Linked DNA regions of Homo sapiens: all the other regions are linked to region 1. The links come from fine-mapping of genetic effects on gene expression. A gene starts in region 1. Each other region holds a variant in brackets. All regions are shown on one strand. Distances are between the middles of the regions.

Evidence for each region.
Region 2: its variant is fine-mapped to the expression of KDR in fibroblasts (GTEx, PIP above 0.99).
Region 3: its variant is fine-mapped to the expression of KDR in fibroblasts (GTEx, PIP above 0.99).
Region 4: its variant is fine-mapped to the expression of KDR in fibroblasts (GTEx, PIP above 0.99).

Annotation. Positions count from the first base shown.
Region 1 is chr4:55,124,236-55,126,922 of GRCh38, reverse strand. KDR (kinase insert domain receptor) reads left to right here and starts at 1,328. Exons shown (of 30, transcript NM_002253.4): 1 at 1,328-1,696. The coding sequence starts at 1,630.
Region 2 is chr4:55,214,430-55,217,116 of GRCh38, reverse strand. It overlaps the pseudogene RN7SL822P. Among named protein-coding and RNA genes, the nearest start is that of KDR, 90 kb to the right of the region's middle. The variant T/A (reference allele first, on the strand shown) is at 1,056.
Region 3 is chr4:55,187,905-55,190,591 of GRCh38, reverse strand. No RefSeq gene overlaps it. Among named protein-coding and RNA genes, the nearest start is that of KDR, 64 kb to the right of the region's middle. The variant C/T (reference allele first, on the strand shown) is at 1,142.
Region 4 is chr4:55,209,909-55,212,595 of GRCh38, reverse strand. No RefSeq gene overlaps it. Among named protein-coding and RNA genes, the nearest start is that of KDR, 86 kb to the right of the region's middle. The variant T/C (reference allele first, on the strand shown) is at 1,171.

The DNA.
Region 1 (2,687 bases):
AAAATGCCTCTGCCAAAAGAAAAGTCTTTTCACTCTAAGCCTTTTTGTGTTTTTCCAAAATTTTTTTTTGCCATATACATTCATTATATTTCAGCATTAAAATATTTCACCTGTCAACTTGGAAAAGTAAAAGCGTGAATACAGTAAATATTTAAAAACAGATGAAGATAAGTAACAGGTTACATTAATTGTATACAATCAATCTAGTTTGAATTAGGTGTAGATATAATAATTCTGTGTGTTTATCTTGGTGAAGAATGGTCCTTTAGGTTGTCATTAAAAAGCACCTCTGGGAGGTAAAAGACATAGGCATCTGGAAGATTCATATTTAATGAAGTTAGGGGACATTTGATGTCACTCCCCAGGTGTGGGGAGATATGGACAGAAAACCAGAAGGAACGAATGTGGTCAGGAAGGAATTGGAGTTCCCCTCCAAACAGCTGCCACAAGAAGTCCACACACGTGGAGACAGTTGTGCAATTTGGTCACAGAGTGTCCTAGGTGCTTTTGCTTCATTGCTCCTCCACTGAAGCACGCTGGCAGCTGGCCTCCTTCCCCTGGGACTAAGGATATCTTGGCTGGAAGCTCTGCTCTGAAAAGGGGCATGGCCAAACTTTCACTAGGGCTCTTCGTTGGGGAGCACGATGGACAAAAGCCTTCTTGGGGCTAGGCAGGTCACTTCAAACTTGGAGCCGCCAAATATTTTGGGAAATAGCGGGAATGTTGGCGAACTGGGCAAGTGCGTTTTCTGATTAAGAGCAACCAGATTCAGCTTTTTAAACTACAATTATACTGGCCAAACAAAATACCCTTATACAAAAACCAAAACTACTGGCAGGAGTCGCTGCCAGCTTGCGACCCGGCATACTTGGCTGAGTATCCGCTTCTCCCTTGTGGCTCCAAACTGCTGCAGATTCTCGGCCACTTCAGACGCGCGCGATGGCGAAGAGGGTCCTGCACTTTGACGCGCCTGGTGAGGGAGCGCTGCTCTTCGCAGCGCTCCTGGTGATGCTCCCCAAATTTCGGGGACCGGCAAGCGATTAAATCTTGGAGTTGCTCAGCGCCCGTTACCGAGTACTTTTTATTTACACCAGAAACAAAGTTGTTGCTCTGGGATGTTCTCTCCTGGGCGACTTGGGGCCCAGCGCAGTCCAGTTGTGTGGGGAAATGGGGAGATGTAAATGGGCTTGGGGAGCTGGAGATCGCCGCCGGGTACCCGGGTGAGGGGCGGGGCTGGCCGCACGGGAGAGCCCCTCCTCCGCTCCGGCCCCGCCCCGCATGGCCCCGCCTCCGCGCTCTAGAGTTTCGGCACCAGCTCCCACCCTGCACTGAGTCCCGGGACCCCGGGAGAGCGGTCAATGTGTGGTCGCTGCGTTTCCTCTGCCTGCGCCGGGCATCACTTGCGCGCCGCAGAAAGTCCGTCTGGCAGCCTGGATATCCTCTCCTACCGGCACCCGCAGACGCCCCTGCAGCCGCGGTCGGCGCCCGGGCTCCCTAGCCCTGTGCGCTCAACTGTCCTGCGCTGCGGGGTGCCGCGAGTTCCACCTCCGCGCCTCCTTCTCTAGACAGGCGCTGGGAGAAAGAACCGGCTCCCGAGTTCTGGGCATTTCGCCCGGCTCGAGGTGCAGGATGCAGAGCAAGGTGCTGCTGGCCGTCGCCCTGTGGCTCTGCGTGGAGACCCGGGCCGCCTCTGTGGGTAAGGAGCCCACTCTGGAGGAGGAAGGCAGACAGGTCGGGTGAGGGCGGAGAGGACCTGAAAGCCAGATCTAACTCGGAATCGTAGAGCTGGAGAGTTGGACAGGACTTGACATTTTGCGATCTTTCATTTACCAGTGGGGAAACTGAGGCTCAGAGACTGGCCCAAGATTACCCAGCGAGTCTGTGGTCGCCTGTGCTCTAGCCCAGTTCCTTTTCTAGGACTCTGGTTTGCGACAGGGACCTCGGCTGGAGCATGTCCTGAGATGCCGACACACCCTCAGGCTCTTGGGAGGCTGGGGTGGGAAGGCGCCTGGGGTTGGCAGGCAGGAGGTGCCTCCGCAGGCGAGAACAGGCGGTGAAAAGTTGTCTGGCTGCGCGCAACATCCTAGTCCGGGCCCGGGGAAGAAAACCTTGCCGGAATCTCAGGCCGGGTCTCCCGGATCGGACGGTACACTCGGTTCTGCCTCTTTGCGGGACCCGGCCCGTTGTTGTCTTCATGCTCGAACACACTTGCACACCACTGTGTGAAGTGGGGTCTGGAGCGGAGAGAAACTTTTTTTCCTTCCTTGGTGCAGGACGCCGCTCTCCTTGCAGAGCGAAGAAGGGGGGGAATAGGGACTTGTCCTGGGGGCTTTGACAGCTTCCCCAAGGGTCTCCAAGTAACAGCCAACTGTCCTGCGTAAAGCATTGCACATCTTTCAAAGCGCTGTGGTCCTTGGTGTAAGCGCATAGTCAGAAGTTCAAGCTCCGAAAACCTTTCCTGTGGGCCTTGGTACCTAGCTTTAGTGCCATTCCTTCCTCTCCCTGCCGCCTAAAATTTCCGTCTCCTTCAATTAGGAACACACACGTTCTTCATGCAATAGCTGTCTGTCTTTTCTTCCTCACTTTCCTTTCTCTCTCAACCCCTTAGATAATATTTCTTTCCTGCAGCCAGTTTGCTGATATCCAGATTTCCACCCTTTGCAGGGTGAGAAAGGGGAAAGGGTCAG
Region 2 (2,687 bases), 90 kb before region 1:
AGGCAGCTGATGTGAATATTCCACCACACTTTGGATGACTACTGAAGTGTAGGCAGGGCTGGGGTAGGCATGTGTCATCCCTGGACTTGGTCCAGAAGAGAGGTGATAGATTTTCCTTTGAGTAAACACCACATTCCTAAGCCCCTGTCCCACCATGCTCTATGAATGCATTTACTCTTTTGCTTGTATGTAATATCAATATTTAATTGTAATTATAATCTATATACTGGGTGTGTGGGGTAAGACAACATAGGGACCTGTGTTTCAGGAGCCCAAGTGTGGTTGTGGAATGGGCACATACAAAAATGCACAATAAAATAGCATAACTGACTGCGTGCGGTGGTTCATGCCTGTAATTCCAGCACTTTGGGAGGCCAAGGTGGGAGAATTGCTTGACACCAGGAGTTCAAGACCAGCCTGGGAATCATAGTGAGAACTCCATGTTTCCCCCCAAAAAAAACAGCCAGGCATGGCTGCATGCGCCTGTAGTCCCAGCTAATCAGAAAGCTGAGGCAGGAGGATTGCTTGAGCCCAGTAGTTTGCAGCTGCAGTGAGCTGTGATGGTGCCACTGTACTCCAGCCTAGGCGAAAGAATGAGATATCATATCAAAAAAAAAGAAAAGCATAACTATTAAAATAATTCGGATATTTAGAAAGTGGTAAAAACCACTTTGGAAAAACGTTTAGCAGTACATGCTAACATAAAACATACATCTATCCTGCGACCCAGCCGTTCCTCTTCTGGACATATCCCCAACAGAACTGAGTGCACATGTTCACAAAAAAGATATTTACAAGAATGTGCATAGCAGCTTTATTCATAATAATCTTCAAATGGGAACAGCCCAAATGTCTATTCACAGGAGAATAGAGAAATAAATTGTGGCATATTCATAAAATGGAATACTACACAAAAGAGCACATACTGTATAATTCCGTCTATATAAAGCTTAAAAACAGGCAAATTAATCTATCATGATGGAAGCTATAATAGTGGTTACCTTTAGGTGCCCGAGTATTGATTACAAGTCTGGTGAGATGCTGGGAGTGTTTGA[T/A]ATCTTGATTTGGGTGGTGGTTACAGGTGTGCACATGTGAAAATTAAGCTGTACACTTAAAATTTGTACCTTTTGCAATATGTAAGCCATATTTTCATAAAATAATTGTATACAATGATTACATTAAAAATGAAATAAACTAGCTCAGTGCCGTGGGTGTCTATAATCCCAGCTACTTGGGAGGCTGAGGTGGGAGGATGGCTTGAGTCGAGGAGTTCTGGGATGCAGTGCACTATGCTGATTGGGTGTCCACACTAAGTTTGGCATTGATATGGTGACCTCTGGGGAGTGGGGGATCACCTAGTTGCCTAAGGAGAGGTGAACCGGCCCAGGTCAGAAATGGAGCAGGTCAAAACTCTTGTGCTCATCAGTAGTGGGATTGAGCCTGTGAATAGCCACTGTACTACAGACTGGGCAATATAGCAAGACCCCATCTCTAAAAAAAAATAAGTAAAATAAAATAAGATAAAATAAAATAGTGATATGGTAACTCTGGTGAGGTAACCATAGATTTTTTCTGGGAGAATGAGATACATACACGAGGGACATCTGACCTAGTGTGCTGAAGGGGTTTGAGCCATCTGGTCAAGATTTGGAGGATTTGGACATGAGTCAAGAGGCAGTGTTTGTAGTCTAAAGAGTTGTTTGGGGCCAAAAGTAGGGCAGTGGGAATGGAGAGAGACAGAAGTAAGGGCTTTTCAGAGGTAGAATGAGTAAGAGTCTCAAGTGATTGAAAATGTGTTTGTGTGGAGGGTGGGGTAGAGGGAAACGCTGAGGATAAAGACAATGGCTCTATGTGTTCTTTGTGTGACTGGGTTGCTGATGTTGCTAATAGAGAAGGTTGAAGGAAGAACACATTTGGAGCCTTCTTAAATCACATGATCAGTTGGCTTGACCTGGCAGCAGTCAGAACTAGCATTTACATTAACTAACAGCACTTCATACATGACTTCAATTCTGGTTCATTTTGTTCTACAAATATGGTCTTATAGCATAAAGCCCTTATACTATGTCTGTTTGATGTAGATCCTATGTAGATCCTTTTCAGTGCCCTGAAGAGAAGTTTCAAAATGTTTCATTGTGATGATATTTATACATTTATATATTTTGGCACATTCTGCACTTGAATCTTCTTTAACAAACTCAGATTTATTCTGGAGTATTGTTAATTTTGTGAAGAAATGCTAACGTGAATTTCTGAGCTGTGATTGCAGTCTTCTATCAAATTCAGGAGGCTAGGTACAATGGTATGTATAGGGGCATAGGTTAGCTCTTATCATCTGCTTAAATTTGCTGGGGGTTGCTCTAATTCATCTGACTGTTTATGCCCATTTTGAGTTATTGTAGTTGAGTGCTATGGTAACTTAGGGTGATGTTCACCCAGAGGAGTTTTGGGCCCAATAAAAGCCTCTTAGAGGTGGAAGGTAGCTTGTCCTCTGCTTGTTTACTGCTTCCTGACAAAACTGTTATCTCCCTTTTGTTTAAAACTTAATTAATGTGTTTTGGGTATACATTCCTTTTCATTTCCTCAGTGTTCAGTGTTAAGCTGACTGGATGTTATCTGGTTGTCAGGGAGAGTTACGGTGGGTTGTGGATGCCGTCTGTGCCCTCCCCATCAGCCCAGGTCTACAG
Region 3 (2,687 bases), 64 kb before region 1:
TTTCATCACCCAGGTATTAAGTCTAGTACTCATTAGTTATTTTTCCTGATCTTCTCCTTCCTTCCACTTTCCACCCTCTGGTAGGCCCCAGTGTCTGTTATTCTCCTCTATGTGTCCATGTGTTCTCATTATTTAGCCCCCACTTATAAGTGAAAACATGAGGTATTTGGTTTTCTGTTTCTGTGTTAGTTTGCTAAGAATAATGGCCTCCAGCTCCATCCATGTTCCTGCAAAGGACATGATCTCATTATTTTTTATGGCTGCATAGTGTTCCATGGTGCATATATACTACATTTTCTTTATTCAGTCTACCATTGATGGGCATTAAAGTTGATTCCATGTCTTTGTTATTGTGAACAGTGCTGCAATGAACATATACATGGATTTGTCTTTATGATAGAATGACTTATATTCTGTTGGGTATATAACCAGTAGTGGGATTGCTGAGTAGAATGGTAGTGCTGTTTTTAGGTCTTTGAGGAATTGCCACACTGTTTTTCACAATGGTTGAACTAATTTATACACCCACCAATAGTGTGTAAGTGCTCTTTTTCTCTGTAAACTCACCAGCATCTGTTATTTTTTGACTTTTTAGTAAAAGCCATTCTGACTGGTATGAGATGGTATCTCATTATGGTTTTGATTTGAATTTTTCTAATGATCAATGATGTTGAGTTTTTTTCCATATGCTTGTTGGCTGCATTTATGTCCTCTTTTGAAAAGTGTTTGTTCATGTCCCTTGCCCACTTTAATAGGGTTGTTTGTTTTCTGCTTGTAAATTTGTTTAAGTTCCTTATAGATATGGAATATTAGACATTTGTTAGATGCATAGTTTGCAGATATTTTCTCCCATTATGTAGGTTGTCTGTTTAGCTTTTGATAATTTGTTTGTTTGTTTTTTGCTCTGCAGAAGCTCTTTAGTGTAATTAGATCCCATTTGTCAATTTTTGTTTTTGTCGAAATTGCTTTTGGCTTCTTCATCATGAAATCTTTGCCCATGCCTATGTCCATGAAATTTCTGCCCATGCCTATGACAACTTAGGTATTGCCTAAGTTGTCCTCCAGGGTTTTTATGGTTTGGGGTTTTACTTTTAAGTCTTTAATCCATCTTGAGTTAATTTAACAAGCATAATTTAGAGAA[C/T]TCAAGAGAGGAAGAAAGACCCACTGTATTTACCCATGTTTTCCTTTATCATGTTCTTTATTCCTGTCTGATGCTCCAAAGTTTCTTTTTTCATTGTTTCCTTTCTATTTAGAAGAACTTCCTTTAGCTAATCTTTTAGAATGGGCCTGCTGGTGACAAATTCTCTTGGTTTCTTTCATTTGAGACTCTGAGAATGTCTTTATTTCTTTTTCATTCCCTAAGATATTTTTTCTGAGTACACAATTCTGAGTCGACTGTTCTTTTCTTTCAGCACGTGAAAAATATTGTGCCAATTATTTTTGGCCTCTATAGTTTCTGATGAGGAATTTACTGTCACTCTAATTTTTTTTTCATTATGGGTATGGTTTTTCTCTGACTGCTTTCATGTTTTTTCTTTGTCTTTAGTTTTTAGAAGTTTAATTATAATGTGCGTTGGCATGGGTTACTTAGATATTTTTATATTGTGTTATGAGACTCTGGATCTTATTTAAGTTTTCTGCTTTACCTGGATTTTTCTGGTACAAGTCCAGCAGGGGAAGGAGAGGAGCTGCTTTGTTATTGCCAGGTGGAGGTACAAATCTAAGTTTCCCACTTGGCCTCTTTTGACACCTGAGGTGGAGACTCCTCATTACTGCTGAGTAGTAGGGGTAGAAATTTTGCCTTTGTACATGGTCTCCACTGACAATGCAGTGCAACTGGCTTATTGCTGTTTGGTGATGGTTGAAGTCTTGACCCCTTTTTCGGCATTCTCTGATACCACATAGCAAAGAGGAAGAGGGTTTTCTCATTACTGTTGGACTGAGGTGGAAATCCAAGCTCCCACATGGCCTCCACTGACCCTGTTGGGGCAGAGGCTTGCTGTCAGTCAGCAGGGATAGAAACCTGGCTTCCTGATTGGCTTTCTGTGATACTACCCTGGTGGGTATTGGGCCAATGTCTTAGTCCACTTGTGCAGCTATAACAAAATAACACAAACAGGCTAATTTGTAGAGAACAGAAATTTATTTTTCACAGTTCTGGAGGCTGAAAGTCCAAGATCAAGGCGCTGGCAGGTTTGATGTCTCACGAGAGAGAGGTCCGTCTGTGCTTCCAAGATGGCATCTTATTGCTGCATCTATGGAAGGGACAAATGCTGTGTCCTCACATGGCAGAAAGATGGAAGAGCAAAAAGGGCCTACCTACCTCTCTGGCCCTTTTATAAGGGATAAAAAAAGTAGAGCCCTTAGGGCTTAATTACCTTTCAAAAGTCCCATCTCTTAATACTTTGCCATGGGGATTGTTTCAATATGAATTTTGGAGGGGACACAAATATTCAAACCATAGCAGCCACTGTGTTATAGCCTCTTGAGGGTGAAGTCTAGGCTCCCCTCTCAGCCTTTGCTGGTATGTGTGGGAGTAAGGTTTTGTTTGTGGTGTTTGGTTGAAGTAGAATGGTTATTGTCTAAAGGTTTTCTGTTTTGCTAGGTTGTCCCTTTCCTGGTCTTTTGGTTAGTGAGAACAGGCTTTTGTTGAGGCATTTAAAAGTCAGAACTCATTTGCATTTCTG
Region 4 (2,687 bases), 86 kb before region 1:
TGGTTTGTGTGTATCATATATCATATACCTAATATATACTACCTTAGAGTATGATCATTCATTTATGTTTTTCTACAAAGAGATTGTAAACTTCTGGTTAGGAGGGATAATTTCTAATACTACTAGTTTCTTGAAAATAGTAATGTGTCTTCTTTTGAGTTATGTTAATTATTTTTAAAAGGCTGGTAGAAAAAATATACTTTTCTTATGTTAGGATCACATAAACTATCATTTCACAAGTACATTTTATTTAATAAAGTTGTTCAAAACTTTGGGTCCGTAGTGGAAGACAGCAGAGAGAAAAGATAAGGATCTCCTTTTTTTTAAGTAGTTTTTTAAAGTTTTTTTATTTTTATTTTTTTATTATACTTTAAGTTCTAGTGTACATGTGCACAACGTTCAGGTTTGTTACATTTGTATACATGTGTCATGTTGGTGTGCTGCACCCATTAACTCGTCATTTACATTAAGTATATCTCCTAATGCTATCCCTCCTCTCTCCCCGCACCCTATGACAGGCCCCTGTGTGTGATGTTCCCCACCCGGTGTCCAAGTGTTCTCATTGTTCAATTCCCACCTATGAGTGAGAACATGTGGTGTTTGGTTTTCTGTCCTTGTGATAGTTTGCTCAGAATGATGGTTTCCAGCTTCATCCATGTCCCGACAAAGGACATGAACTCATCCCTTTTTATGGCTGCATGGTATTCCATGGTGTATATATGCCACATTTTCTTAATCCAGTCTATCATTCATGGACATTTGGGTTGGTTCCAAGTCTTTGCTATTGTGAATAGTGCCACAATAAACATACATGTGCATGTATCTTTATAGTAGCATGATTTATAATCCTGTGGGTATATACCCAAAATAGACAAATGGGATCTAATTAAACTAAAGAGCTTCTGCACAGCAAAAGAAACTACGATCAGAGTGAACAGGCAACCTACAGAATGGGAGAAAAGTTTCACAATCTACCCATCTGACGAAGGGCTAATATCCAGAATCTACAAAGAACTTAAACAAATTTACAAGAAAAAATCAAACAACCCCATCAAAAAGTGGGCAAAGGATATGAACAGATACTTCTCAAAAGAAGACATTTATGCAGCCAACAGACATATGAAAAAATGCTCATCATCACTGGTCATCAGAGAAATGCAAATCAAAACC[T/C]AGTAATGGGATGGCTGGGTCAAATGGTATTTCTAGTTCTAGATCCTTGAGGAATTGCCATACTGTCTGCCACAATGGTTGAACTGGTTTACAGTCCCACCAACAGTGTAAAAGTGTTCCTATTTCTCCAAATCCTCTCTGGCACCTGTTGTTTCCTGACTTTTTAATGATCGCCATTCTAACTGGTGTGAGATGGTATCTCATTGTGGTTTTGATTTGCATTTCTCTGATGACCAGTGATGATGAGCATTTTTTCATATGTCTGTTGGCTGCATAAATGTCTTCTTTTGAGAAGTATCTGTTCATATCCTTTGCCCACTTTTTGATGGGGTTGTTTGATTTTTTCTTGTAAATTTGTTTAAGTTCTTTGTAGATTCTGGATATTAGCCCTTCGTCAGATGGGTAGATTGTGAAACTTTTCTCCCATTCTGTAGGTTGCCTGTTCACTCTGATCGTAGTTTCTTTTGCTGTGCAGAAGCTCTTTAGTTTAATTAGATCCCATTTGTCTATTTTGGCTTTTGTTGCCATAGTTTTTGGTGTTTTAGTCATGAAGTTCTTGCCCATGCCTATGTCCTGAATGGTATTGCCTAGATTTTCTTCTAGGGTTTTCTGGATTTAAGTCTGACATTTAAGTCTTTAATCTATCTTGAATTAATTTTTCTATAAGAAGGAAGGGATCCAGTTTCAGCTTTCTACATATGGCTAGCCAGTTTTCCCAGCACCATTTATTAAACAGGGAATCCTTTCCCCATTTCTTGTTTTTATCAGGTTTGTCAAAGATCAGATGGTTGTAGATGTGTGGTATTATTTCTGAGGGCTCTGTTCTGTTCCATTGATCTATATCTCTGTTTTGGTACCAGTACCATGCTGTTTTGGTTACTGTAGCCTTGTAGTATAGTTTGAAGTCAGGTAGCATGATGCCTCCAGCTTTGTTCTTTTGGCTTAGGATTGTCTTGGCAATTGCAGGCTCTTTTTTGGTTCCATATGAAATTTAAAGTAGGGTTTTCCAATTCTGTGAAGAAAGTCATTTGTAGCTTGATGGGGATGGCATTGAATCTATAAATTACCTTGGGCAGTATGGCCATTTTCATGATGTTGATTCTTCCTATCCATGAACATGGAATGTTCTTCCATTAGTTTGTGTCCTCTTTTGTTTCGTTGAGCAGTGGTTTGTAGTTCTCCTGGAAGAGGTCCTTCACATCCCTTGTAAGTTGGATTCCTAGGTATTTTATTCTCTTTGAAGCAATTGTGAATGGGAGTTCACTCATGATTTGGCTATTTGTCTGTTATTGGTTTATAGGAATGCTTATGATTTTTGCACATTGATTTTGTATCCTGAGACTTTGCTGAAGTTGCTTATCAGCTTAAGGAGATTTTGGGCTGAGACAATGGTGTGTTCTAAATATACAATCATGTCATCTGCAAACAGGGACAATTTGACTTCCTCTTTTCCTAATTGAATACCCTTTATTTCTTTCTTTTGCCTGATTGCCCGAGCCAGAACTTCCAACACTATG